Homo sapiens: one gene and its partners. The protein of the gene in region 1 interacts with the protein of each later gene in a biochemical or structural test. Each region holds a gene or a part of one and is shown in the gene's direction. Other genes may lie near its edges. The genes, in order: RHEB, PLD1, RNF152 and RPTOR.

What was found.
Region 2: the proteins of RHEB (region 1) and PLD1 form a complex in vitro, tested with the Homo sapiens proteins (one study listed by BioGRID).
Region 3: the proteins of RHEB (region 1) and RNF152 form a complex in vitro, tested with the Homo sapiens proteins (one study listed by BioGRID).
Region 4: the proteins of RHEB (region 1) and RPTOR form a complex in vitro, tested with the Homo sapiens proteins (one study listed by BioGRID).

The regions. Positions count from the first base shown.
Region 1 is NC_000007.14:151,516,875-151,524,373, reverse strand, and holds the start of RHEB (GTP-binding protein Rheb), read left to right. Parts: upstream 1-4,478; 5' UTR 4,479-4,862; coding exon 4,863-4,914; intron 4,915-5,396; exon of another isoform or gene 5,397-5,614; intron 5,615-7,499. UniProt on the Homo sapiens protein: Small GTPase that acts as an allosteric activator of the canonical mTORC1 complex, an evolutionarily conserved central nutrient sensor that stimulates anabolic reactions and macromolecule biosynthesis to promote cellular biomass generation and growth.
Region 2 is NC_000003.12:171,674,472-171,681,495, reverse strand, and holds part of PLD1 (phospholipase D1), read left to right. Parts: intron 1-3,801; coding exon 3,802-3,930; intron 3,931-4,662; coding exon 4,663-4,781; intron 4,782-6,882; coding exon 6,883-6,996; intron 6,997-7,024. UniProt on the Homo sapiens protein: Function as phospholipase selective for phosphatidylcholine. Implicated as a critical step in numerous cellular pathways, including signal transduction, membrane trafficking, and the regulation of mitosis.
Region 3 is NC_000018.10:61,882,988-61,890,011, reverse strand, and holds part of RNF152 (E3 ubiquitin-protein ligase RNF152), read left to right. Parts: intron 1-7,024. UniProt on the Homo sapiens protein: E3 ubiquitin-protein ligase that acts as a negative regulator of mTORC1 signaling by mediating ubiquitination of RagA/RRAGA and RHEB.
Region 4 is NC_000017.11:80,918,834-80,925,857, forward strand, and holds part of RPTOR (regulatory-associated protein of mTOR), read left to right. Parts: intron 1-3,890; coding exon 3,891-3,994; intron 3,995-4,656; coding exon 4,657-4,840; intron 4,841-6,536; coding exon 6,537-6,647; intron 6,648-7,024. UniProt on the Homo sapiens protein: Component of the mechanistic target of rapamycin complex 1 (mTORC1), an evolutionarily conserved central nutrient sensor that stimulates anabolic reactions and macromolecule biosynthesis to promote cellular biomass generation and growth.

The DNA.
Region 1 (7,499 bases):
TTTGCCTGGCCACTGCTACCAGCAACCTCAGGAGATTGCTGGGCTTGGCAGCCTGCTGCTGGTGAAGGCTCCTACTAGGAACATCCTGGTCTTGGGGATGGGAGAAGCCAACTTCATTCACAGCCCAGCAGAAACCAGATTTGAACTTTTAATGAAACTTTCTTGAAAATTTGAGGACAGTTAATGTGTTAGTTTCCTATAGCTGCCATAACAAAGTGCCGCAAACTGGGTGGCTTAAAACAAGATAAATTTGTTCACAGTTCTGGAAGCCGGAAGCCGGAAATCAGTGTCAGAAGGGCCGTGTTCCCTCTGAAGTCACTAGGAATGGACATTTCCTTGCCTCTTCCAGGTTCAGGTAGCCCCAGGAGTTCCTTAGCTTAAGACGTCACTCCAGTCTCCACCTTGGTCTTCACGTTGACCATCTCTTGCATGTCTGTGTCTCTTCTTATGAAGATACTAGTCATACTGGATTGGCCTACCCTACTCCAATATGATCTCATCTCAACTAATTACATCTGCAATGGCCTATTTCCAAATAAGGTCACATTCTGAAAGGGTAGGACTTCAACATATCTTTTGGCGGGGGACAAATTCAACCTGTAACAATTGAGAACAGTTGAGAACAATTTACAACTACTGTATAACCCCAGACCTGTCCTCAGAGTTCTTTGCTGAGCCAGCCCTCTCTCAAACATGCCCTACCTGCATGGCCTTAGGGCTGGCTTACTCCACATTCCCTCTTCTGGGAGGACTCCATGCAACTCCATACCTCAGAGTTCAGACCAAACTGATCCCGTATGTCAGAGAGGGCAGGATTTACCTTCCTCCCAGTGAAATTCAGGGAATTCACCTTTCCCAGGATGGCTTTCATCCTACAACGCTGCGGACAGGACAGTCAACTCCCCACCAAGGAAACCCCTCTTCCATCCACAAAGGACCTGCCCCTTTGACTCCAATAAGATGACCACATAATAGAATAACCTTTGCATGCATTGTTTGATTTGGAATGACACCAGTGTGAGACATAACAGTTCAGTCTGATTTGGCTTATGCCAAGATCAAGAGGATTCTGGTTCTTCTCCATTCTTCCCTCATCAAATATTTTTAAAAACCAAACCAAACCACAAAACTCCTTAATGTCTACTTTCATTGGGGTCACCCTTTTCCACATAAAAGAATGTCCTTTTGGTAAAAACAATCACAGCAGTGGTTTTTTACTCTGACCTTGGTGTAACCCAGTGGTAGGGGGAAAAGGTTTTGTATGTTATCTCTGGTACTTAAAACAAATATGTTGGAACTAGAAATCAGATACTGGGCTTGGAAGTGCTCATGGAAAGTTAATACAAACCCCATAATATCAGATGTCCAAATTTCAAAGAACTTCCATAACCACCAGCCGTCAGAGGTGTAGGTCAGCAGAGACCCCTCTGGACAATCTACATGCTTAGCATGAGCTCCTCACTCAAGGGATGATGGGAATTAACAGAACCGATGATGTTCTCTCTCTGGGAACTTAACAGAAGACACATAGTTCTTAGTTCGCAGGGAAAGGGAACAGAAGTGGAAGTACACACAGAGAGAAGGCAGCAGGCTGAGGACTCGAGCACTCCCGAACAAGCAGGACCTGCTGAGGAGAAGCTGACTGGTGGCAGCAGACCTTCCAGCTGCTGCAAAGTCAAAGGTGACTGAGTTAGCCACCAATAAGGGAGCTACTTTGAATACAAAAGCAAGTCCATTTCTTCCAACACTGTTGCTGTCTGGTTGCAGTCAGGTATTTCCATGTGAATTCAGACAATGAGTCCCTACTATTTTAGGTAATCTGAGCCATTTCTTTTTTTTTTTTTTTTTTTAAGACAAGGTCTCACTTTGTCACCCAGGCTGAAGTGCAGTGGCACCATCTCAGCTCACTGCGGCCTCGACCTCCTGGGGTCAAGTGATCCTCCCACCTCAGCCCTCCACGTAGCTGGGACTACAGGCAGGTTCCACCACGCCCGGCTTTTTTTTTGTATTTCTTTGTAGAAACAGCTTTTCTCCATGTTCCCCAGGCTGGCTAAGTCACTTTTCAAACCAAACAAATTCTCCCCACTCTAGAATAAAGGAATCTTCTAAACCTTTGGATCCTACATTAAAGGGCTTGAAGACAGCAACTGGAAAACTTTTTTTTTTTTTTTTTTGAGACAGAGTCTCACTGTTTTGCCCAGGCTGGAGTGCAGTGGCGCTATCTGAGTTCACTGCAACCTCGCCTTCCAGTTTCAAGCAATTCTCCTGCCTCAGCCTCCTGAGTAGCTAGGATTACAGGCATGTGCCACCACGCCTGGCTAATTTTTGTATTTTTAGTAAAGACGGGGTTTCACCATGTTGGCCAGGCTGGTCTGGAACTCCTGACCTCGTGATCCGCCTGCCTCGACCTCCCAAAGTGCTGGGATTACAGGTGTGAACCACCGCGCCCAGCCTGGAAAACTTTTTGAATGAATTTGTCCTTTACAACTGTGCTTCACATCTGGATTACCAATATTCTCAGGCTAGGGCAGTGCTTTCAAACTTTTTGAAGCAACCCACTGTAAGAAACTTTACAATGAGGCCGGGCACGGTGGCTCACGCCTGTAATCCCAGCACTTTGGGAGGCCGAGGCGGGCGGGTCATGAGGTCGAGAGGTCGAGACCATCCTGGCCAGTATGGTGAAACCCTATCTCTACTAAAAATACAAAAATTAGCCAGGCGTCGTGGCGGGCGCCTGTGGTCCCAGCTACTCGGGAGGCTGAGGCAGGAGAATGGCGCGAACCCGGAAGGCGGAGCTTGCAGTGAGCCGAGATTGCGCCACTGCACTCCAGCCTGGGCGACAGAGAGAGACTCCGTCTCAAAAAAAAAAAAGAAAGAAACTACAGTAAATCCCAACATGCAATAATACATATATAGCATATCTATAAACATATATATCTACACGTGCACTTACACAAACTTACCCTTACTCATTTTTTTAACTCACCACTGTACTAATGAGGACACATACTTACCCTTACTATGCATAACGCAGTTTTCTATTCTGTTCTATTTTTTTTAAAAAAAGGTAAAACTAAACTGATTTTATAATGCAAGGAATTTAGTAGCATCTGTTCAAAAACACCGTGGTGAGGGTATCCGAATCCACAGGATAAAAACGACACATTTTACAGGAGAGTGCATTTTAAGACCTTTATTTTAAAATACTTAAAATAACTATAGCGTAAACCTCAACATTTCATGGAAACATAGAACTTCCAGACATTGATCACTTCTGGCTGGCTGCCTGGGGCTTCCATCTGTAGATCCCCGAGGACAAGAATGCACACCCCAGCCCCTCATCGGAGTGCTTCCGTGGGAAAGCTGGAGGGAGTCGCTCTTGGGTTGGGTGTTCCAAGTCGACTCCAGTCACCTCTAAACCTTCCTACGCTGGAATACAAGGCCTGCCACTCAGCTTCCCCTGGCTTCATTCCTCCCCACCGATCACTGGCAAAGGGCGAAGGGCCATGCCCGGCCTCTGCAGGTCCCCACTGCCAAACAGCCTGGGCAGAATAGGGGCGGGTTCCCCGGCGCGGCGGAGTCTCTGCTAACTCGGCAAGTGCCAAGCCCTCCAGCAGCCACCACGCCGGGCCTGCCTGCAGGCTGGTCCCTCAACGGCACCTGCGTTCCCGGCCGGGCTTCCCTTCCCGCGCCCCTCTGCACTGCACCCCTGGGAAGGCTGTGCCCACACCACGGTCTCCGCCCGTCCACACCGCGGCCCGAGGCGTTCCTGGCACCCGGCTCGGGCCTGCCCGCCGCACCAGCCGCCCCGGTGCTGGCGGAGAACCGGCTTCCCGCCCCGGCGCTGTTCCAGGAGGTGCGCCGAGCTCCGCGCGAAGCGAAGCGGACACCAGAACTGACGAGGCTCGCCCTGTTTTTAATGAAATTCCTAACACTTTGAATTAACGCAGACTCCATGCTTCCCACAGTCCTTCGGCCGTCGGTGACGCTTAGTCACCACTACATCCTCAAACCCAGACACGAACGCTAACGCAGCTCAAGGAGAATTTTCAAAAAACCCCGAGGGAGGAGCCAGCCCACCCGCCCAGGCCACGCGCCTCGCGCCCTTCACGGGCTCAGCGGGCGCGAACCCGCCAACCGCTTAGCGTTTCGCCAATCACCGCACCTCCCACCTATTGCCCCGCCCTGCGCTCCGTTCTGGCCAATCACCAGGGAGCCACCGTTTGTCTCTCCGCCTCTCCCGCCCGCCCCTAACCGGTTGGAAGTTTGAAGCCTTCAAACCTAGCCGGCGCCCAACAGCGCGGTAGCAGCGAGGTGTATTTTTAGCTCCCGGGCGGGCAGCCCCGCCCCCCCCTCCCCGCCTCCTTGTTTCCCCCAATGGGAGATGGAGTTTCCGACACGTCATCGCGCGGCTGTGCAGGAGCTGTCCAATCGGCGCTCGGGGAGAATGGCGTAATTAAAAAGCGGCGGAAGAAGGTGGGAGGGTCATGACGCAGCGAGTTTCAGTCGTGACTTTTCTGGGGGCATCGCGGCGTCCCCTTTTTTTGCCTTTAAAGTAAAACGTCGCCCCGACGCACCCCCCGCGTATTTCGGGGGGCGGAGGCGGCGGGCCACGGCGCGAAGAGGGGCGGTGCTGACGCCGGCCGGTCACGTGGGCGTGTTGTGGGGGGGAGGGGCGCCGCCGCGCGGTCGGTTCCGGGCGGTTGGGAGCGCGCGAGCTAGCGAGCGAGAGGCAGCCGCGCCCGCCGCCGCCCCTGCTCTGTATGCCGCTCTCTCCCGGCGCGGCCGCCGCCGATCACAGCAGCAGGAGCCACCGCCGCCGCGGTTGATGTGGTTGGGCCGGGGCTGAGGAGGCCGCCAAGATGCCGCAGTCCAAGTCCCGGAAGATCGCGATCCTGGGCTACCGGTCTGTGGGTGAGTGGCCGGTGGCCGCGCGGCCTCCTCGCGCCGCCGGGGCCTCGCCTGGGAGCCGGGTCGCGGCCGGGCCTGCGAAGTTTGGAGCCGGCGCGGCCATGTGGCGGGGCGGGCGGGGGCCGCGCGTTTCGTAACCACCATTCTGAGCGGAGGTGGTGGCGGTCGGGGCGGCGTCCGCGCCGGTGGAGGAGCCGCGGTAGCTGGGCGCCCTCCGCGGGCCGGGCGGGCAGGTGGCGGCCGGGCGGAGGGCGTGGGAGGCGCGGGGCGGGGGCCGTCGGCCGCCGAGGAGTCCGGGTCTCGTCTGGGGAAGTGAGGCGGCGCCGGGGAGCCGCGCTAGAGGCTGCCGCGAGGGAGTCACACCTGCCTCCCCGCCTTCGCCGCGGGCGCGCGTGACCGGGGCTGGCGGTCTCCCCCACCCCGCCCCCGATGTAAGGAAAAGAAAGTCCGTGGGATTTTAACAAAGGAAGCAGCGCCTCGGCTTCATTCCATCTGTGGTGAAGTTTACCCTTGTAAAGAAAACTAGGGATTTAGAGGACGTTTGGGCACTGAACGCAAGTTTTCTGCATAGGAAACCTAGGCGATCCCCCAAAAGAGGTCCCTCTGGAGGCCCTCGAGATGCTGCTGGCGGCCTGGGTAGGAAGACAGAGAAAAAGGAATGTCTGATCTCTCGGTGCCCTATTTTTGTTCGGGAAGGAATAAGGTCAGGTACTTGCAACCAGGCTGTTGAAGTAATTCCAAAGTCTTTTTGTTTTCTTTTTCTTCCCCCAAAAGGTTGACATACATTTGAAACAGTTCCTAGCAGTCGCCTTATTGCTGAATAAGGTGGCTTAGGGTCGGGTTGGGGGGCGGACGGGGTGTTACAGAACGAGCGGTTTTCTGGCCTGTGTGAAACCAGAGCGATTGAACTTAGACACGCTTCAGGGTGAGGCTGTATTGTCTCCCGACATCCGGAAGCCTGGAGAAATTAGTTCATCTTTTCGGGCTGTTTTGAAGTAACTGTCTATAGAAGGCGTGCACCGGGCCACAGTTGAGGGGATGGGGAGGTGAAAGCGAGGGTTCCGAGGCTCCCGTGATTGCGGAACGGGGTGACTATCTGTCATGGGAAGCTTGTACCTGCCTGCCGCTCACTGGATGCACTCCCCAACTGCGCTTTCCACCGCCTGTGCCAGGGTCTGTGCTCTTTGACCAAGATCAGCCACTGCATGCTTACTCATCCTTTTACCACCTCTCCGTCGAGAGCCGGGGGGAAATTAAGGGCTGAAAGAAGCTTGGCTAGAGATGCGGGGTGCCTAGAGTCGTAGGGGAACTCTTGTGCGATGCGGTGCTGAATCCGAGGGGATGCATAGGTGGCAGCTTTAACAGCTGCAGCCAGGAAGTAACCATGAATCAAATGGAGGGGTTCAAAGTCACTAATTGTTCAAATATCAACATGGAACCTGGGATCCAGCCTTTATTGGCAGCCTGAATCCATGCTCTTGTCTCTGTTCTCTTGATTTCCTCCTCTGCATTTTGAGGAGTTGGGACCGCGAGGTGTTCTGGCTCTTGGGTGAGCCTTCCCTAGTCAGTCAAGTAAGTACTTATTGGCAACTATTTGGAAATAGTAGTCCCTGAATAATCACGTTATAGGCAACAAGTACCTCGGCTACCTGATTTCAACCCAAGAGAATGACCTAAAGATCTTGACTGATTTACCCTTTTCAAATGTCGAAATGGTAGCTCTAGTCTTTGGTGAGCAGGGCTAGTTTTATCACTTTTTTTTTTTTTTTTTTGGCTACAGAAGTTCCTTATGTCCAGTTGAAATCCATTCTGTTTTATCTTCCCTCTATTCAGCGTCCTCCTGAGGACGGAGATGTGACAGGCCACCCCTTAGCCTTGTCCTCACAAACTGTTGCTTGTTAAATACTGTGCTAACTTAGTCTCCGGTGGGATACAGGGTCACTTTTAGTCCCTATTTTCTGTCTTCAGTATTTCATATTTCTGCAACCTACCCCACTTCTCCATATTTATTTTCAAGCGTAGTCATATTAAACGATTTTGGAGAGGTTAAGTTGCTCCCAATCTTGTATTTGATTTTTTTTTTTTTTTTTTTCCGAGACGGAGTTTCGCTCTTGTGACCCAGGCTGGAGTGCAATGGCGCGATCTCGGCTCACTGCATCCTCCACGCCCCGGACTCAAGCGATTCTCCTGCCTCAGCCTCCAGAGTAGCTGGCACTACAGGCGTGCACCACTATGCCCGGCTAATTTTGTATTTTTAGTAGAGACGGGTTTCACCACTTGGCCAAACGTCAGGCTTGTCTCAAACGCCTGACCTCAGGTGGTCCTCCCACCTTGGCCTCCCAAAGTGCTGGGATTATAGGCGTGAGCCACCATGCCCAGCCGCATTTGATTTTAAAGTGTATTATGAGCCAGGATATTTTGTAGTATGTGGGGTCTTTTTTAGGGGAAGGAGATTAGGTTTTGCCAGCAGGTTTCTTCTAGTAAGCCACCCTTTTGAGAATTACTCAGCATGCTCACTTCTGGGAGCTTACTGGCATGTTTGCTTGCAAATGGTGGTGCTGTACCAGAGAAATTTGAGTACCTGTGTT
Region 2 (7,024 bases), on another chromosome or scaffold:
TTTAGGTAGATACTACATCTTAAGACCCAGATATAGGAAATGCAAAAGTATTTATTTCGGCATCTCAGACTGAGTGTAGAATGTGGTAAATACATATAGGTCTATAATCTCTCATACAAAATCCTTGGAATCAGATTTCAGAAATCAGAAAGTTCTGGATTTTAGAAAGGTAATACAATACCTATACCCTCTACTATATTACACTCCCAGCAGGATCCAGGAAATACCTGGAATGTAGGCAAACCATTTATGTTTGTGCAACACCAAGTGGGATCAATAAAGATAATAAATAACCTCTTGTCAGTTCAGGTCAGATTTTGCTGACCTGTGAGTTATGAAATGAGCTGTGAAAATCAGCTATGAAAAAACATTTGAATTGTTAGAACTTTTGGAGTTTTGGAATTGTGGTTAAGGGCTGATTTGTGCAGATTGAGCTGGTGGGATATATCTGTAGCAGTTTACGGAGGACTTTGAAAATCAGACTGAGACATTGCACCTCTTCCATTAAATGTTGGAAAATCCCTAGGGGCAGGGAGCAATTAAGGGTGAGGCTTTATAGCGTTTATAGTAGAGACACAGGGAGTCTGACAAGGTTGTGTCAGTGAGTTCAAGAACGAAGTAAATGGGAGAAACTTTTTCCAAAAGCAGAATCAGCAGATTTTCATCATGATCTGGGAAGCCGTGGGGAGGTGGGTGGAGAAGTCAGCGAAGAATAAAGGAGCCAAAGGTGATTCCGAGGTTTGAGCTTGAGTTACTACACACAGACAGCAGAAATCTCAAGGAAAGACTTGATTTTATGGAATGATGATGATTTTAGTGTTAGACATAATTTTAAAGTTCTGGAGGGAACTAGGTAAACAATGTCAAGTGAGGCACTGGAAGTGACCTTAGATTTGGAGTCCAAAACAGAAGCCATCCTTGCAGGTGCACATTTTAGAAATTGTATAGAAAAAGACAGGAGAGGCCGGGTGTGGTGGCTCACGCCTGTAATCCCAGCACTTTGGGAGGCCGAGGCAGGCAGATCACGAGGTCAGGAGTTCGAGATGAGCCTGGCCAACATGGTGAAACCCTGTCTCTACTATCAAATACAAAAATTAGCAGGGCATGGTGGTGTGCGCCTGTAATCCCAGCTACTCGGGAGGCTGAGGCAGGAGAATTGCTTGAACACTTGGCCCTGGGAGGCAGAGGTTGCAGTGAGCCGAGATCGTGCCACTGCACTCCAGTCTCAAAAAAAAAAAAAAAAAAAAAAAAAAGAGGAAGAAAAAGAAAACAAAAAGACAGGAGAAAGGGGGAAACCTTGTTAGTGAGGAGGAGCTAGGAAAGAAGAACAAGGATAGGCTGGAGAAATGGTAGAAAAATGGAGACCTGGAAGCCGAGAGATGAGAATAGAAGGAGGAGGATGTGGCACGACCAGAGGACACCAGGCAAGGAACAAGAAGTCCCCCTTCTCATAAACTTTAGTAGCCAGAATCTGAGCCACTGACAGAGGAGGATGCAGAAAATTGGCCTGACAAATCTGTGCCAAAAGACAAGGCAGGTGCAATTATGAAATCATTTGGGAGCCAGATAGCAGCCTAACGAGACCCCCTTGGATCAGCATTGTTGATGCCATAAGTCCTCTCGACCACACTCATGTAATTCTGAGCTACTGTTTTCACAGGAACTAGTATTTGGCTCTATTGCCTTAATAGTTCATTTGTACTGAGGAGGAACCCTAATTTATGTGGAATAGTTTTTAGGCCATGGCTAAAAACAAAAACAAATTTGAATTATGAGCAGGTTGAATTCAATTAGTACCAAGATAATTTCCTGAGACTAAGAATTTCCTTTATTTTCCTTATCATAACTGGTTGTTAGGTGAAAGATAATTTTTAAATGAGTGTATATGTGTTTATGTAAAGCCTTAGCTTAGAGTTTTGCAGTTGATGAAAGCAAATTGTATATGTGTATTTTATATTTGAAATTTGAAATATTGTTTATCTCATTTTTCATCCCTTTTGTTTCTTTTCTCACCCTCTTTTCTTCTTTTAACAAAGTGCTATGTAAACAATAAAGAGCCTATAGATGAGCAAACAGACCTACCCGTACTTTGGCCTTTCAGTCTCATAAAGCAGGAAAATAAATCACTGGGAGAAGTCAATAGAAGTCTATTTTTAACATGATTTCATTTTGCTAATCTATGGCATTTTAAATCATTTTTCTTCTGTAGAAAACTTTAATAGCCTTTGAAAGGTTAATGATTCAGTTTGAGATAGAATATTAGCATTGTGTGTGGTGATTACATAAAAACATTTGTTCTGCAAATATTTATTGATTGCCTGGGTGCTTGGAGCTACTGGCAGTGAGAAGATTTGGTTCCCACTCCCAAAGAGTTTATAGACTGGTGAGGCATTGATGCGGGCAGGGGAGCATCCTGATACAATTGCGTCACAGAGTCAGAGGTGTTGGGGCAGTTGTTAGTGGGATGACAGCAGTGCTAGTGACTGCCTCTTCCTTATGGGGAGATGGCAGGTGATAGCTAATGTGGCTCTTGAAGGATGATTAGGATATCAGGCCAAGAGGGAGAAAGGAGCATTTCAGGTAGAAGTAATAATGTGCCAACTGCATGGAGACATGGCAGTCCACACCTGTTATAATACAGTGAAACACGTGATTTGCATGGGGCCTGGGGTTGGGTGGGGAAAAACAAGGACTAGAAAGATAGATTGGCACCAGTTTGGGAAGAGTCTTCTATGCACACTAAGCCCTTAGGACTTGAGCTTCCTATAGGCAGTATGTGAACCTTCCAGGGTTTTAAGCAAAGAGTGCATTTTACAAAGACAGTTCTGGGACAGTGTGTTGGTGGCAGGACCAGTGTAGTCCTCTCACTGGCTACTGCAAGCAGTACCATTTATTCATTCAACACATATTTTTGCATTCAGTGTCTATTTGTTAAATGCCTCTTTTGTGCCAAGTGCTGCGTTTGTGATTTGTAATTCTGCATCTTTTTACTTCATTGTCTTTGTATTTAGCCGTAAGTCAATGGTCTCGGCACAGTTATTTGTGAAATGCTATAGTAGATTGCTGCTTTTGCACCTATATCATAAGCTTTCATCTGTTGTTACCATATTTTTTATAAATGCCATCTATGATTTGAAGTATATAAATGTTAAAGCGCAACAGATTTTAGCTGTTATCTAGGCCAAATTCTTCATTTTACGCATAATGGATTTATGATCTAAAAAACTGAAGCTCAGTGTCACTTAGCTAATTAATTCCAGGGCTGGAACATGGGCTATCTGTAAATTTGAGGTTCTTGCTTTAATGCAAAAGAATTATGCATCAGGTGTGCACCATGTTGGTTGAGGAAAAAGAAGTGGCATGGTGTCTTTATTGCCCCTGCGTCTCAGGTTTCTCCACCTCTCCCCTCCCCGCCCTTCCCACTCTGCCCCTGAAAGCCCCCCACCAGCTTTACTGCTCTCATAGTGCCACCTTGTGAGTTCTTTATTCACAGTTAATTCTGTGATAGTTCTTCCAGTGATCTGGTAGGTGGTGGAAATAAGTTACTCAACTGCCTGAGAAGGTCAAATTTCATTGTTTAATGATGAATCTTGTTGTAGCCCTAACTGCCCACTAAAAGTAAACTTGTAAGGACTGTAAAACCTTGTTAGCCCACAGCCTGTAATAGAATGGACAGATGCCACCCTAGTTGTGTCTTAAGAAATTAAGAAGCTTTTAGGTGTTTAATAAATGAGAGTTGAGCCTCCCTTTCTGGGACTCACCTGAACCACAGTCTCTGAGGGGGTCTTGCTGCATTCACAGATACCGGGTCCATCCGTAGTTTACAGACAGGTGTGGGAGAGCTGCATGGGGAAACCAGATTCTGGCATGGAAAGGACTACTGCAATTTCGTCTTCAAAGACTGGGTTCAACTTGATAAACCTTTTGCTGGTGAGTATCATAATGGTGGGGTGCTGGTTATATTTTGTCTTTTACCTTTGAACATCTCAGCAAGTATACATGTGCATGATCTAAATGCCTTTTGTTTTGCTTCCGTTGATTTTTGAAAATTTTTTAAAACTTTGGAGACTAGATTTAGTCATTAGCATGTGCTTAAGGACTTTTTTTTCAGTTATAATAAGAAAAGAACATGAAATAGAGCTGAACTGTCTGAAAAATCCAGATTTTTATAGGCATATTTTGGGGGCAATAATCAGTAATTTTTCAGGAAATGGTAGGCTCCCTTTGATCATCTTCTATTCTGCTTATTTCCTGCATTTCCAGCGTTAGAATGGCATATTTTCAGGTTATCACTGGGTTTATATGTTTAAGAGGAGATAGAGATGGCATTGCCTGCCATTGTTTCAACAGGATAAAAAATAAAAAATATAATATCAAATACACAGCCTTAGATAATTTGTACCAACTCACATCTTGCCATGTCTAGTGATTATCTAATCCTAAGTGAAACGGAAACATATGTGGGGAAGTGCCTGGGAGACTATGTCCCTGAATGTGAAATCTGTTTCCCTTGATTATAAAAATGTTGTTCTATGCAAGCCAAGAAATATATACCTAGTGGGCACTAACCCACGTTTCCTTTTAGTTTCATAGTTGGAGTCAGAGAGACTTTGCCCCAACACTGAAGTTAATGACTGATCCTTGCCTGGTGCACCCGGGCAGATTTCATTGACAGGTACTCCACGCCCCGGATGCCCTGGCATGACATTGCCTCTGCAGTCCACGGGAAGGCGGCTCGTGATGTGGCACGTCACTTCATCCAGCGCTGGAACTTCACAAAAGTACTTGGATGTTGCTATCATGATTTATCCACATGAAGAGAGGCAGGCCTAACTAGAGAAGAGGTTTAGAGGAGGCTGGTAGCAAGAAGAGACTGTTGTGGCCACAACTGTGTCACTGCTCTGCTGTTGGCTGCATTGATGTCCGGGTGCCTGGGCATCTGGGCAAAAAAAAAGGGAAACATTCCCGAATGTCCACACCATAGACAATTCAGAGTGCCTAGGGACAGGTGCTGCTGTGTGGGTCCTGATTTTAACCTTGTTAACATCTTGGACACAGTGTTGACTAAGCATTTAGTAGCCTGGGCTCGGTAGTCATTTGCAGGGCTGTTATAGGGGGATAGGAGCCTGGTTTAGATGAGAGGGCTTGAGCTTTAAAGTCCCATCCAGTTGGATGGGACTGGAATTGCACTGGGTTTATATTGGTACAGGATTCTGAGAGCTGGTTCTGAGCAAACCAAGAAGTATTAAGAAGGTGGGGCCATTTTCCTTTTATCCAGATTGTGTCCTCATTACTTGTAAGAACTTGACATAACATTCAAACCTAACATTCATAAGTTAAGTACGTATCATTCAGGCCAGGCACGGTGGCCCACGACTGTAATCCTGGCACTTTGGGAGGCCTAGGCTGGTGGATCACCTGAGGTCAGGAGTTCGAGACCAGCCTGACCAACATGGTGAAAACCTGTCTCTACTAAAATACAAAAATTAGCTGGGCATGGTGGTGGGTGCCTGTAATCTCAACTGCTCTGGAGGCTGAGGCAGGAAAATCACTTGAATCCAGGAGGCGGAGTTTGCAGTGAGCTGAGAGGACTCCATTGTACTCCAGCCTAGGCAACAGAGCGAGACTCTGTCTCAAAAAAAAAAAAAAAAAGTACATATTCAGGTGTTATTAAAGTTTCACTTTATTTACTTGAAGGGATAATGAGTCATGATTCCCCTTGGTCGTTTGGAAAAAGAATTTAGTTTTATCAACCACTTAGAGTCTAACTTTGTTTTTCATTCACATAATGATTATAAAAATTTAGTGGACATTCTAATTGAAATTTTTTAACAAAAATTTAGGGGAGATGGATGAATAAACAAATGGGGTGTTACTTTTAACCTGCTATACTGGCAAAGATAAAAGTCTCTGCTGATACCTGTAGTTAGGTTTGGGGTGGTTTTTGTGGTGTGCTCATACATGCTACCCCAGGGAGGATAAATTTGTACAACACCAATAAGTCTTTTTTAAAGTATGCAATCTTTGATCCAGAAAAACTATTTCCGGGTATTCAAACTAAAGCCATAATCCAATAAGGTAATTTATTTTGATATGGCTTCTAATAATTCAAATAAAATTAGAAATAACAGAAATCCTTACTAATAGGAATTTATTAAACAAATGATTCTTTTATACCATTTTACTATGAAGTTATTAAAAATAATGATATCCCACTATATTGCTGTGACAAGATATCTAGAACATAATCAGTAAAAAATTAGTTTATAAAACAATAGTCTCATTTTTGCAATTATAAAGTTCTGTAACTACAGATTATATTTAACCTGTCTTTACAAATATAAAACAATATTTCCCCTACAAAAGGTAAAAACAGGACTGTGAGAAGTAGAAAACAAACACAAATAATCTGTAGCCCTTCACTTAGAAATGTCCACCATTAACATTTTTCTTTTTCTTTTTCAAATTAACCTGAATTTCTTTTCTTTTCTTTTTCTTTTTTTTTTTTTTTTTTTTGAGATGGAGATTCACTCTTGTCACCCAGGCTGTAGTGCAATGATGAAATCTCGACTCACTGCAACCTCTGCCTCCGAGGTTCAAGTGATTCTCCTGCCTCAGCCTCCCGAGTAGCTGGGATTACAGGCGCCCGCCACCATGCTTGGCTAATTTTTGTATTTTTAGTAGAGATGGGGGTTTCACCGTGTTGGCCAGGCTGATCTCGAACTCCTGACCTCAAGTGATCCCCGCTTCTTGGCCTCCCAAAGTGCTGGGATTACAGGCGTGAGCCACTGCACCTGGGCATGAATTTCTTTTATAATCACAAAGTAGGGAGAATGAATCTTTTTTCTCATTTGAATATTTTATCCTTTTTCTTTATTTTAGATTATGAAATCAAAATATCGGTCCCTTTCTTATCCTTTTCTGCTTCCAAAGTCTCAAACAACAGCCCATGAGTTGAGATATCAAGTGCCTGGGTCTGTCCATGCTAACGTACAGGTAAGTAAGTTCTGGCTTTTCTTTTTGA
Region 3 (7,024 bases), on another chromosome or scaffold:
AAATAATTATAATCCTCTCTTTGCCTATTTCAAGTGCATGTTTACTCTGAAGTGAAAGGCCATTAGGTATTTTCAAGGCTGATTCTAGGAGGTTGTGAGCTTAGCATTATGTAATAGAGAGGTGTTACTTACAGACTTTCTCTTCCTCACCATCTGCCTCTTGTTTAAGGCTTCCTGAGTTTGTTTGGAACCGCCCAGGGTAGAAAAAGAGTGGCAATGGGCCTAGGGCCACCCAGGAGGTGGCCTCCTGCAGCAGAGACCACAGGGCAACAGATAAGATCTGAAGGGGGCAGGAATGTGTTTAGGGTAACCTTGGGTCACCCTTTTGTTACTTTGATGTTTAGAAAAAGCAATTTGGGCAAGAGGCTTTTTCTGGTCACAGGACTAGTAGAACACCCAGAGAGTTTAGGGACATTTGTGCTTCCATCAGCAACTGTATTGACTAGGAGGGTGGTGAGTTCTAAAGCCTTCCTTGCCTCACTCTCCCTAAAAAGAGTTGGATGCTATGGAATAGGCATTGCAAGGTGCTCTGGATTCAGCAGTTGGTGGCTTGCAGAGATTTTGCTTTGGGAAGAGCTGTTCACTCATATATCTTTGTTCACATTGTGATAACGGCATGCACGGGTGAGCCATTTTAAAGATTTGATAAATACCTTAAGCATAAGTGTAGAATTTAACAAAATAATATTGCTTTTGGTTCAGTAATCACCTTGGCAAAGTCATTTTTATAAAGATAGCTCTCCAAATAAGGAAGTGGTGTGGTAAACTATGTTAGTCTCCAAGTCACAGTGACTGAGGGGATATCAGTATCAACCTAGGGAGGTTGAGACCACCCGGCTTCATTCAAGTGATAAGATGTAGCACCCAAAGCGTTTCTGAATTGGGAGATGAGCAGCTTGGAGACCAGCAGGAAGAACCAGATATAGACCATCCAAAAACCCATTCAGGGTGCCTGGGGTTGGGCTGAGGGCCAGGCACAGACTGAGGGAGAAGGAAAATGAAAGCCCCGAGGGACTAGTCTTGAACTATATTTGGGAAGCCCCAAAATGCATTTCTATATTTTCTCTGGCCTCTGGGTCCCTACCACTTTAATTTCATACCCAAGTCGGCTGGTCAGGTAGAGGACTCTTGTGGCATGAAAGTGGTTTCTGGCACTGCCCATTGTGACGTCATGGAAACCGGAAAGGAAGAAGGTGTTGGTTTTCCTGCTTCTTTTCCCATGGCTTCGAGAGTTACACTGTGTGATCCAGCAGTCTGACTCCATGATTGAAATCACAATTGGGATAAAGTTGGTAGAGATGCTTCTTAATTTACAGTGGGGTTATATCCTCATAAACCCCTCATAAGTTAAAAATATTGTAAGTGGAAAATGCATTTAATACACCTACTGACATCATAGCTCAGCCTTGTCTGCCTTAACTGTGCCCAGAAATGCGCATTAGCCTACAATGGGGGCAAAATCATGTAACAAGAAGCCTATTTTGTATTAAAGCATCAAATATCTCATGTAGTTTATTGAATACTGTATTGAAAGTGAAAAACAGATTGGTCGTATAGGCACTCAAAGTACGGTTTCTACTGAATGTGTATTGTTTTCACACCATTGTAAAGTCAAAAAATCAAAGGTCATAGGTCAAACAGTTGTAAGTAGGGAACCGTCTGTGCTTGTTACATGCTTAGGGATTTTCAATTTCTAATTGACTCACTGTCATTGTAGGATTTAAAGAGGGAGACCTCAAATAGTGTATCTGTGACCTGCATCTCCTTTGGGTGGTTCTTGATGTCCATGATTTCTTGGCCTAGATCACGTTTGGCTGCTAAGGCCTGGACTACGTTCTTCGTGGAGTTGTGAGGGGGCTGCTTGTGATCGCCTAGGAGTGGAGAGGATGCCTTATTTACCCCTTGATATACTAATGCCTGCATAAATAAAACTCATTGCAAACATCCTGCATGATGAAACTTACTCAAACATCACATAGACTTCCTGGTTACCTGCCTTTCATGCAAAGGAGGGGCTGAGCAAATGAAGATGTGCTGCTGGTGGGAGCAAAGTTATGAGGAAGTAGAATCTCCAAATGCTGTGTTCTGTGCTTGTATTTTCTCTTTCTACAACCTCCTCTCCCCTGCCACTATCGCATTCCCACCTACCAAGGAAGTGTAACTTTCCCGGCTCAGTTCTGATCTAGACATCCAGATAATCACACTTGGTGCACTCCTCACTGAGGTTTGACAAGAATTGAAGAGATTTTGGTAAAAGCTTTGACAGATACTGTAGAAATAGGGAGCATTCTTTTTTTTTTTTTTTTTTTTGAGATGGAGTCTCACTCTGTCACCCAGGCTGGAGTGCAGTGGGGCATGATCTCAGCTCACTGTAACCTCTGCCTCCTGGGTTCAAACTATTCTCCTGCCTCAGCCTCTCGAGTAGCTGGGATTACTGGGATAATTTTTTCTATTTTTAGTAGAGACAGGGTTTCATCATGTTGGCCAGGCTGGTCTTGAACTCCTGACCTCGTGATCCACCCGCCTTGGGCTCCCAAAATGCTGGAATTACAGGCGTGAGCCACCGCACCTAGCCAGGAGCATTCTTCTTACTATTGCTGTTTCTGCTCCTTGACAGATTCACTTAGTGACAGTTGCCACTGCCGCATCTTAGTCAAGAACCTTGTTTCTCTCTGGGCTATGACAATGGTCTTGCTCACTTTCTGGCTTTCCCACCCCACTCCAGTTTGGAAAATGCTGTCACTCTTAGACCATTAGGCCAATTAATCCTTCATCCCCTCACTTAATAACTTTTAGTTGCCCTTGTGGGAGGAAGCTCATATTCTTCAGTTTTGCTTTTCAAGTTTTCCCCAGGTTGACCCCAAACTTCCTTTCCAACCTCGACTTTTGCTCCGCCTGACTTTAAAACTGAACATTAGCTGGGATGGTTAATCCACTGTTGCCCAAAATGTTTTTCATTGCCTCTTTCTTATTCTAGCACATTCTGTGGCCTAAAATGTCCTCTTCCTTCCTCTGCCTCTATCCTATCATCGAAGCCTCAGTTCAGCTCTCAACTCTTCTGAAAAATTTAACTTGATCACATTAGCCTTTAGAAATTCTTTATAATCCAAAGTTCTCTGGCAAAATTGCCTCCATCTCTCATTTCATTCAACATTCATTCATTCATTCTACAAAGGCCACTTGTCATAGATTGTCTTGTATTATCACCTACGATTGAAGTGTCTTTTTCTTTCTGTTTAATTGCAAAGAATAGAAATTCACTCAAGCTTGTTTGCATAAAGGGAGGTGAATTGAAGAGATGTCCCAGGATGTCTTGTCATCAAGCCACATTTCCCAAGAGTTCCAGTGAATGGGACCCTTCCAGTTATCATTCACCCTGGACCTGCTTAGTGCAGGAGAGGGTTGGGGGCACAGTTCCTTCCAAGGGGGCCTGTGGCTGGCTGATGTAGCAGTTGTGACCTGCAATTAGCCTACAATGGGGGCAAAATCATGTAACAAAAAGCCTATTTTGTATTAAAGCATCAAATATCTCATGTAGTTTATTGAATACTGTATTGAAAGTGAAAAACAGATTGGTTGTATAGGCACTCAAAGAGATCTCAGTTCTCTTGCAAGCTCCTTAAAGATGACTGGATGAGGCTTTACACCATTGTGTGTTTGCCACCGTGTTTGTACACAGGAAGGGCTCAATAAACAAATCATTGGTGACTCTTTGACAACACAGAAAACGATTTTGACTTACAGTGATTTAAAGGAATTTTAGACCCTTTTAGCTTGAAGTCTTAAAGGAAGTTAAGAAGATAGAAACTTATTTTTAAGAGCTTCCCCTACTTGCATTAATAATGATTAAATGTTGAATCAAATTAGAATGACCAGGCTGCAGTACGTATACCAATGTTTGGGAGGTGAATGTTCTCAATGAGGGTCATGATTCTAACAAAATTAGTTGTTACTCAAAGCCTGTTTTTCAACTTCCATTTGCCTCCTACTTTGCCCACAAAAAAAAAAAAAAAAAAAAAAAAAAAAGAAAGCAAAAGAAAGCAAAAGAAAAAAAACCTCTACTTGGTGACATACAACAAGCAGCTTTAGGACTTTACAGCCTACCAGACCACCCCACAATCTAACGGAGCAGGCATTGATGCCTGGATTTGTGATGACTGGGTGTAGTTGCCCACCGCTGACTGCCCCACCTGCGTTTATAATTAAAGGCTTCAATACCTTTGTGATATACATCTGTTTTACCTCCCTTTTTTTGATTTTGGAATACTCATTCACATGATAGAAACTCTTCTTTGATACTCAAAATGCTTGATCATTATGAGAGTGTTATTATGAAAGAGGGAAATATGTTCAGCTGCTTGAAGAAAATGACCAGAAATACATTAATATTAAAATAACGCTCTCGGCTGGGCGTGGTGGCTCACGCCTGTAATTCCAGCACTTTGGGAGGCTGAGGCGGGTGGATTACTTGAGGTCAGGAGTTTGAGACCAGCCTGGCCAACATGGTGAAATCCCATCTCTACTAAAAATACAAAAATTATCCAAGCATGATGGTGTGCACCTGTAATCCCAGCTACTTGGGAGGCTGAGGCAGGAGAATTGCCTGAACCTGGGAGGCAGAAGTTGCAGTGAGTTGAGATCGCACCACTGCACTCCAGCCTGGGCAAAAGACCGAGGCTCTGTCTCAAACAAACAAACAAAACACTCTCAGTTTGAAAGGTAGTGAATAGGGCTGAGATAAGTGTCTCAGGAACCAAGTATTTGTTGTGATATTCTTTTGCAGTTGTGTTGTTCTGGGGTAGGTTTGCAAATTGCTTCCTCGAAGATTAATAATATGAGATTAGAAGTGGTTGGTGAGCACATGGACAAATTTGTGTACTTTGGAGAATTTACCCCTTTTGTTGCATGAGACATAAGATTACTGCCATTTTAAGTGAGTAATAGTTAATTCAACCATGCAGGTAAAGAGGTGTCCTTAACTGGGATAAATAGTCCATCCACTCCACTCCTTTACATTGGTACTTCAGAAACTGAAGGTACAGATCCATCCATTCACCTATGGTGGTGTGTAAAATAGCATTTGAAACACTGAGCATCAGGTATTTAAACCACTTATTAGGCAAACAATTGCATTCATTAAATGTATTTTGAATGGCCAGGCATGGTGACTCACGCCTGTAATCCCAGCACTTTGGGAGGCTGAGGCAGGCAGATCACCTGAAGTCAGGAGTTCAAGACCAGCCTGGCCAACATGGAGAAACCCCGTCTCTACTAAAAGATACAAATTAGGCAGGCATGGTGGTGGGCACCTGTAATCCTAGCTACTCTGGAGGCTGAGGCAGGAAGAATTGCTTGAACCTGAGAGGTGGAGGTTGCAGTGAGCTGAGATTGTGCCACTGCACTCCAGCCTGGGCGACAGAATGAGACTGTCTCAAACAAACAAACAAACAAAAGAATGTTGAATGCCTATGTTTTACCAGGCATAATTCTAAAAAAATCCCTGCCTTCTAGCTTCCTGTAGGTATTTAACTCATAATTAATTTGGTTTTCTGCTTTTTTTTTTTTTTGTAATGGCAAAGCTAAAAGGGTAGAGAATAAAAGAAATGTATCTGATATTCTCTCAATTCTTGATACCTTAGCATATATGCCTGCCTTACATGGCTCTAATTCAGGTAAGTCATTATGAACTGGAATTTTAAAAAGTAAGATGGGTTTGGGTTTAAATTTCACGTCTGCCACGTGACCTGAGTGCACAAGGTCTGACTGAGTTTGTTCTTCAGCTGCAAAATGGGGGAGAACCGACCTCATTGAGTTAGTGTAAGAACAGGAGAGACTTACATATAAAGTGCTTAGTGTGTTGCCCTCCACAATGTAAGACTAAATAAATGGCAGCTGTTGCTAACGTCCTTATATCCAGCATCTACCATCCACCAATCATTGGGCTCAGTTCTGGAAATATCGGGATGAATAGGCATGGTCTAACCTGAAGAAGCCCTTAAGCTAGCCAAGGAGGTGATGGCATCCAAGTAACTACAGCCTTCAGCGTTTACATGGGAGTTTCTTTTACCTGTCATTATTGTCAGAGTCTTTGGTTTGAAAGTCTGTAAAGCTTTCAGTGGCTCTGAGTTTAAAATGATAGGCCTTCTCAGGAGGAAGTGGGGAAAAAGCTGGAAGCAACTGGAGGAGAGGAGTCTGAGAAAGGGTTCTGAGCTAGCCCCCAGGCAACCTGAGTCTTCCTTAAAGGAGATGAGTCGCCTTTCTCCTGTGGCCTCACTCTTCCCAAGTGAAATGAAGGACATCCTCTTTCTCAGGGTCTGCTTTCTTGGGAGTAGAGTGACCCCCAGACTTGCCCATGACTAAGAGCATACCTGGGTCATGGAACTTTCCGTTTTAAAACAGTCCCAGAAAAATTGGGATGAGCTGGTCACCCTCCAGTCTTGTTCTGTGATTGTTGTTTGACATCCTGAAGCAGGCTTTGTAGAGATCTAACATTGTTAGTAGAGATACAACCATCCTACAAGAGAGGAGCAAGCGGGGCAGAATAAAATGGGAAAAAACATTGTAGCCTTGTCAACCCCTTTATTTAGGAATCTGCTTTTTGGAATGGGATATTTATTATTATTAAAAAGAAGAGAACTGTTTAATAAAGGCAAGGAATCTAGGCTATACAATATAAATATAAAGTTAATGAAACCTTTTAGAAATTCTTCTTAAAAAGGGGTAGCCGCTTGGGGCCCGGTACACAGTAGACACTCAGTAAAGACTTATTGAAATGGTGGCATCAATTTATTCTTCAGAAATATTTTTGAAAGCTGCATAGAGAAGTGCAAGAGGCCTCTGAGACATGCATTCCAGGACAGGTTGAGGGGCTGAACACTGTGGGCTTTGAACCAGTCTGCGCCTCACTCTTCTGGGCCCTTCCATCACTCATTTGAAAATGCATGCATCTAGATATGCTCTGGGTTTCCTGTGCTGGTATCTGAGTGTGTTTATGTATGAGCTGATGCTCTTCATGACTGTGTTT
Region 4 (7,024 bases), on another chromosome or scaffold:
TGTGTCCTGTGCCGCCCAGGTGCAGAGAGGGCTCCACACAGCCAGCTGCATCATCAGCACTCATGTCTATGTCGCCATCAGCTCCTTGGCCATCTCACCATCCTCTGTGGAAAAGGGGCCACAGCAACTCCAGAACCTCCCGAGCCTTCCCACACACCCGGGTCTGAGGAGGGAAGGAGCTGGTGGGCTGAGACACCTCGGCCTCCACTGACGCGGCGTTCTCTTCCCGCAGCGCCTAGGACTGAGGGCACCGTGGCCCCAAGTGAAATTCCTTAAGGCTTCCTTTGTAACTAATGGGCATCTTGTTAAGAGTCACCACGTTGCTTTAATGGAATAATACCTAGGACTTACTTTTCCAAAAGAAGAGTTCGTAGGATTTATCTAGGAAACGCAGTTTGCAGGAAAATGACTTGAAGAAATAGCAGCACACGCTTTTGCAGGGGTTTCTTCTCCCCCACCAAGCAGCCAGCGGCCTCTGCGCTATTCTTAGCCCAAAAGTGCCTCTGGATAATCCTCTGGGAATCCCTTTTTAAGAGTTTCTCACACATGAATCCAGATCCTCGATATAAAATTAACAGGAACATTTCTGAAATACTCCACTTCCTCCCAAGATAGAGCAGCCAGAAGCTGACGCTGGCATCCGCAGCCCTGACTGTGTCAAGATCCAGTGGGAAAATTCACTGTCCAAGTCTCTGAAATGTACGGTATTTTCATCTGCATTGGATCAGACGCCCCCGTGTCCTTGTGAGGTGGCGCTCCCGGAACAGGAGACAGGGTGGGTCTCATTCCAGTCCCCGCTTCAGCAGCTGCAACAGTCGGGGGTGGATAAAAGACACCTGCACCTCCATCTTCCAGGCGTGTTCATGTGCGCACTGGCCCAAGAGAGTGTCTGTGCTGAGCATTCGACTGTTAGCAAAGTCGTATCTGCCACCACCGAAGGTTGGCTTGGGGAGTGGAAGAAAGGCCCTGTCTTGTAGCCGGGACCTTGACCCTCTTACAGCTGCCGTCCTCTCTGGACGCAGACCTCCCTAGAGGGCATGTTTGCACACCCTTGACCTCTGCAGGCTGCGAGTGAGCCGGGGCTCTGGGGGTGTACATGCTGAGAAGGGCGCCGTGTCCTCCAGGCAGGCCTGGGCCCACAGAGGCTGTGCGGGCCGCACTCAGCCCTCCAGTTTGCATCTCCAAACCCAGCCTCTGCCATTGCCGTGCCCTCTCTGTTCACCCTTCCTGGTGCTGCGCTCTCTAAGATGGTGGCAGGGACCAGCAGAAAGGACTCTCCCTGGTCCTCTGCCTTTGCCCCTGCCCCAGCCAGCTCTGCAGCTCCTGCTCGCTGCGTACCCTGTCCTCACACCGACACCGCAGGCAGGCAGGTCTGCCAGGTCACCTCTGAGGGACACGCTACTCATGTTCACAATCTTGGCCCCACACCCAGCGCAATCAACGCTGAGTAAATGTTGAACAAATAAGAAGTGCACAGCTAAAGAAAGCTCCCTCCAGGCCAACCCCCTGTGGTCACTACACTAATGGGGGTGGGGGGGGCTCCTGATCCAGGTGTGTGTCTGTCTCACGAGATTTCCAGAAGTGGTGGAAAATTAGTTTTGTGACAGCAGCCCCAGGTACAAGCCATGTGAAAGCAGGATGGTCTCATCTTATAACCCCAGGGGCTGCGAGAATTCATGCCGAGGCCCGGATCAGTTCCCTGCCTGGAAGAGTGGGCAGAGCAGAGGGTTCGTCACCACGGCTCCATGCGGTACTCCCACGGGCGCTTCCGTGCAGGGTGGCAAGGCGGGAGCTGCACAGACCCCAGGCGGCTCAGCGTGACGTCCCAGGGCTCCTGAGTCACCGGCCCCAGCCCAGCAGCGCCTGAGCCTTTGTGCTCCGTGAGCGTCTGAGCATGTGTGGGTTTTGCTAAAGGCTTCATTTCAACTCCAGAAGTTTTCTGTCTTCCCCGTCACCTCCCACTGTTTTTCCAGACATTTTGAGAAGGCACATATAAAGTTCACAGTCGAAAACTTGCTTTTCTCTTTTTAGACTTTTGAAGGGATCATATGTCTGGCAGGTTCTGTGGGATGGTTGTATGTGTCTAGGGCTGGCCGAATAGTTTAATACCAAAACAAAACAAGCTCAGAAAGAACATGTATTACTCTTGTCATTTAAAAAATAGGAACGTTGCTTAAAGACAAGTTATGGTTCCATTTTCTTGCTATTTGCGTTTTGAAGGAAAGGACAATCTGGGAAGCGTGGGTGTTACATGAGTGAAGACTTCAGGATCGTTTTGTTTTCCTTGGTGTTCTGTTGGCTGAATTGCAGGTTCAAGGTTCCTAAATTCTAAGTGAATAATTAAAAGCATGAGACATTGCAGGCTCCACGCGGATGCGGACCTGAAGGACAGGGTTCTGTCTGGCTGGAGCGCAGCCTGGGATGGGCCGGCGCTCAGGGAATGGCTTGTGCCTGCGGGATCAGTGGGCACCTTCATGGAGCAGCTGGCCCCATCCTCCTGACACAGATGAGGTTGCCCCAGCACCATCAGGCCCCTTCTGAACGCGCACAGCCTCTGGAGTCCAGAACCCAGCGGGACCCGCATTCCCCCCACTGAGCAGTGTACTCAGAACAAAACCACCCCGAAGCACCTGGGCCCTCGCGAGGTCATGTCGGTGGCCGGGCAGCGCACGCCCTGCCTTGCGTGGTTTCTCACGGCTGCTCACTAACGCCGACAGCTGGTCTCCAGATCCACAGAAAACCCTGCTTTAAAAAATAAAAGCAAAACCTCTTGCCTCCTGAATGCCAGGGCTCAAGCTGGTACAAATCTTTTTCTGTGGTAGAATTTCAAGCCCTGCAGGTGTCTGTGGCAGGAGGCTCTCAGAGCCCAGGGTCTTGGCTTCATCCACAGACGGCTGGGTTGAAGGGGTGGTTTGGAGCCTCATGCTGCCCACTAGGCTGTGCCAGCTGTGCACCACCCTGCTCCCCACCCTCCGGGAGCAGCCATCCCCTTCCCCTGCCAGTGCGCCCCTCCCCAGGGCAGGTTTCAGCCATGTCTGCCCTGGAGATGAAGGTTCCCCGTCCATGCAGTGCACCCAGCACCACCTGCGTGCGCCCGTGGGAAAGGATGACCACAGCCCCTCGGCCAGGAGGATGTTAAGGGCGGTCTTGAGTTCCAGGCCCCGTCACAGTCCAGGCAGCAGAGCCCATTTTGCCACTGGAGAGAGCCCAAGCCCCCTGCAGTCATTCTCTGACAGTTTCTGTGGCCTCCTGAAGCACACGGGGGTGTAAACAGTGGCCTGCGTGGAGGCCTCAGGCTGCTGGTGGCTTTCCACCCCGTGCCCACCGGCCAGGTCCCGGGTGGATGAAGCACTCCCTGACCCTCCGTGAATGCCACATCGCCCGGCTCCGGAAAGAGCATGGCTGGTGGATTCTTCCCGGGCCTCAACTCGCAGCCTCTGACCCGAGAGCTGAGGTGTTGGGGAGAATTGGACTCAAGGCTGGGACAGTGTGGAGGCCCAGCCTCAGGCAAGGGGGAGGACACTGAGGCCGCCAGGAGCCGCCCCTCTGGCAGGGAAGGTGAGGAGGGTGGGCCGTCATCCATCTCAGAGGCTTCAGGCCCTGACCCCTCAGGAGCCTCAGGCAGAGCTTCCTCCCCAGACATCCCGGCTCACACGGCCACGCCAGGGCTAGCCCAGTGGATGCATGTCCAAGAGTAAAGAATACCACTTGAGCTTCAGGATTGCCTTTGCGGGGGATCCAGCTGGGGCCTTCCATTGGTGTTGGTGCTTCCTCGGCCAAAGGCCTTTTCTGTGATTCTGAAGCGGCTCCACGCCAGCCTCTGCTTCGTGTGGCGGCCTCCGCGGAGCACGTCCCGTCTGACCTTCACACCCCCATTCCTTTGCCCCTAGGCCACCGTGAACGCCCGGCCGCAGCGCGTCCTGGACACCTCCTCCCTCACGCAGTCGGCCCCCGCCAGCCCCACCAACAAGGGCGTGCACATCCACCAGGCGGGGTAAGTGCCGCCCGCTCAGCCTGCAGGTCCGTGGTGGTGACCGGGGCCCCACGGGCTGAGCTGTCCCTGAGCCGGCCTCCCCATCCTCCTCCTTCCCCGCCCTGTCTTGGCTTCGTCTCCTCCCCCCTCTCCAGCGGGCGTTCTTTCCCTCTCCCTCCCGGACACCCCGGTACCCGCCTGATCTGAGCCCTGCCTTGAGCTCTCCCCATCTTGAGGAACCCTTCATGTGCACATCATCTCAGCAAAAGTTGAATGAAGCCTGGTCTCTGTGGCCTTTCAGAGTTTGTAAGAGGGGATCTAGATCTCCAAATGGGTAACCAACAGGTGTTTGCACCTCAGGACGTGGCACTGCTGTGTGCTGAGCTCGCACATCCCGGCCCACTCGACTCTGAGCTGGGTTCGTCCTGTCCGCGCCACCTCCCAGGGTGCTGGAGTTCAATGAGGGACAACCCTGCCCCCTGCCAGGCGGGCAACCGAGCAGCATGGACTCGGCACCAGCAGCTGGGGTTCGGGAGCCATGATGGCATGCTGGGTGACTGAGGACACCCCGGGCCCTGGTGGCACCTGGGAGGGTGCAGGTGGCCCAGGAAGTTGTTCCATGTTCCCTCTCGAAGCCCCAGACTCTGCAGAGGATGCAGTGTTTGTTTTTCTTCCAATGGCAGGGGCTCCCCTCCGGCGTCCAGCACCAGCAGCTCCAGCCTGACCAACGATGTGGCCAAGCAGCCGGTCAGCCGAGACTTGCCTTCTGGCCGGCCGGGCACCACAGGCCCCGCTGGGGCGCAGTACACCCCTCACTCCCACCAGTTCCCCCGGACACGGAAGATGTTCGACAAGGGCCCAGAGCAGGTACGGGAGCCCGGCTGCCTGGTGATCTGGACACTGAGAGCGTTGCTTCTCAGATGGGGGCTCATGGCCTCAGCCTCAGGCTGCTCACATCACCATGGGATGGGGCAGGACCCACCCTGCCGTCCTGGGTCTGTGGGCCACTCTCTGCCTTTGCAGACCCGGGTGCTGGTCCTCACTCGTGCACCCCTCTGCCTGCACTCCTTAGGAGCACTGCTGGGTGTGTCCCGGTCCCTCTGCCTGCACTCTTTAGGAGCACTGCTGGGTGTGTCCCGGTTCTCCGCCCCTGGTTCTGGTTTCACCATTCTGGGCAGCTTCCATGTAACGAAACAGGAGCACGGAGTTACCTGGCTCTGCCCTTCCTGGGCACACAGCACTCTGCGTCCGCTTGGGGGCAGCTGCACTGCAGAGCATTTGTTCTGAATGTGTTGTCTTTTCTGTGAACATCCAAGTACGCTGCATAAATAGGTACACTCTCTTTGCCTTTAACTAAGTTGAAAAAGATATTTCTGGAGAGAGGAATGCCTGCTTTGTTTTGCCAGGGTTATGAGAGTGGTGTGAGGTGGCAGCTGGTCCGGAGACCTCGGCTGTCTCGTCCAGGTGCTGCCACTTTGTCAGTTGAGGGCACCTGGGCTCAAGAAGGTGGTTCAGGGCGCACCCAGCACACCCAGCTGCTCTGGGTGCTGACAGCATGATCATCTCAGCAATGAGTGGGGTCCGGGGCTCGCTTGGTAATCCAGTGATTTTAAAAGAAGTTAGCGGCCGCCTTGCAGGATGCCCTGGAGCAGGAACGGCCATGTTGGGGTAGAAGAGCTGTCACGGCAAGAGCGGACAGGTCCCCACAGGTGCTGCTCAGCCCCAGCCCACCTGGACTTTCCGTGTCTCGGCAGAGGAGGAGCGAGAATCACCACCGAGCCCCAAGTGCAGGGTCAGCCTCCTGGCCAGGCCCTGGGGAGCAATGCTACCGGCACGTGCAGCTCACCCACCCGACCCCCCGGGGTGGGGGGGATGCACCTCTCACTGCACCTGCCCTGAGATCATGGGGAGCTCCCTGTGCCAAGACACAGCGTGAGAGACGCCAGCAGGCCACATGGCGTGGCACAGGAGACCCCTGGTGCCCAGCCTCACTCCACAAGCACACACAGACTCTGACAGCCCTGGCCGCCACAGGTTCCACAACAGGAAACACCCAAAGCTCAGTCCTCCTCAGCTCCACATCCTCTTTCTCCAGTAGCTGGGAGCTCCAGCCGGCCTGCAAAGCTGTGCGCTCCGTCCAGGCCACTTCACATGGGAGTCCCCGCTCTCAGTCTGGTGTCACGGGGCCATCACAGGAGCTGTCCTGGAACCAAGCGGCAGAGGCTTTTTGGGGGTTGATAAACCAGCACACATGGACGCACGTGGCATTGTCTGAACAGTCAGTTAGAATTGACTTGGGAGCTGTGCTGGGTCGGCCCTGGGGATGGTGGGACCGACGTGGCTCACACTTCACAGCCCGGGCCCCTCAATCCCTGGCCAGACGTTCAGGGGTTCTTGGTCACCAGGATACGGAAGTGAGCAGAGCACAGAAGTGCCGTCCTTAGGGGCAGCCCGGTGCTCCCGGCAGCGCCTTTGTCCCCAGCTGCAGCTCTTTTGAGCTCAGGAGTGGCATGACTGACTGGTGTTTCTTTTTCCTTCCAACCCTCCTGCTTAAACCCTGAAGACTGCGGACGACGCGGACGATGCTGCTGGACACAAAAGTTTCATCTCCGCCACGGTGCAGACGGGGTTCTGCGACTGGAGCGCCCGCTATTTTGCCCAGCCCGTCATGAAGGTGCGCCCGGGGTGTGGGGTTCAGAGTAGAGTCCTAGCGAACATGTGTCTGTCCCACTTCTTTGAGCATAAACGCTCAAGGCTTGTGGCTGTGGGAGCGTCCCATTGTGGTCGTGGTAGTGATGGTCACGGTTGAGGTAGAACCGCAGAAGAAACAAACTTCACTTACCTTCCTGTCGCCAAACGAAAAGAGAAAACCTGCCTCGCTGGAGCTTCCCAGTGTGACAGGTGTCACTTTGCCTTAACTGACAGGGTCACCACAGGCCTTCCCACTCCCTAATGGTGAGGATCACTCGAGGCCCATCCCAAGGCCACGCTTGCGTGGCTCCGAGGTCTGGGGACTGTTAGACGCAGCCTGCTGCAGCCAATCCTAGCGCA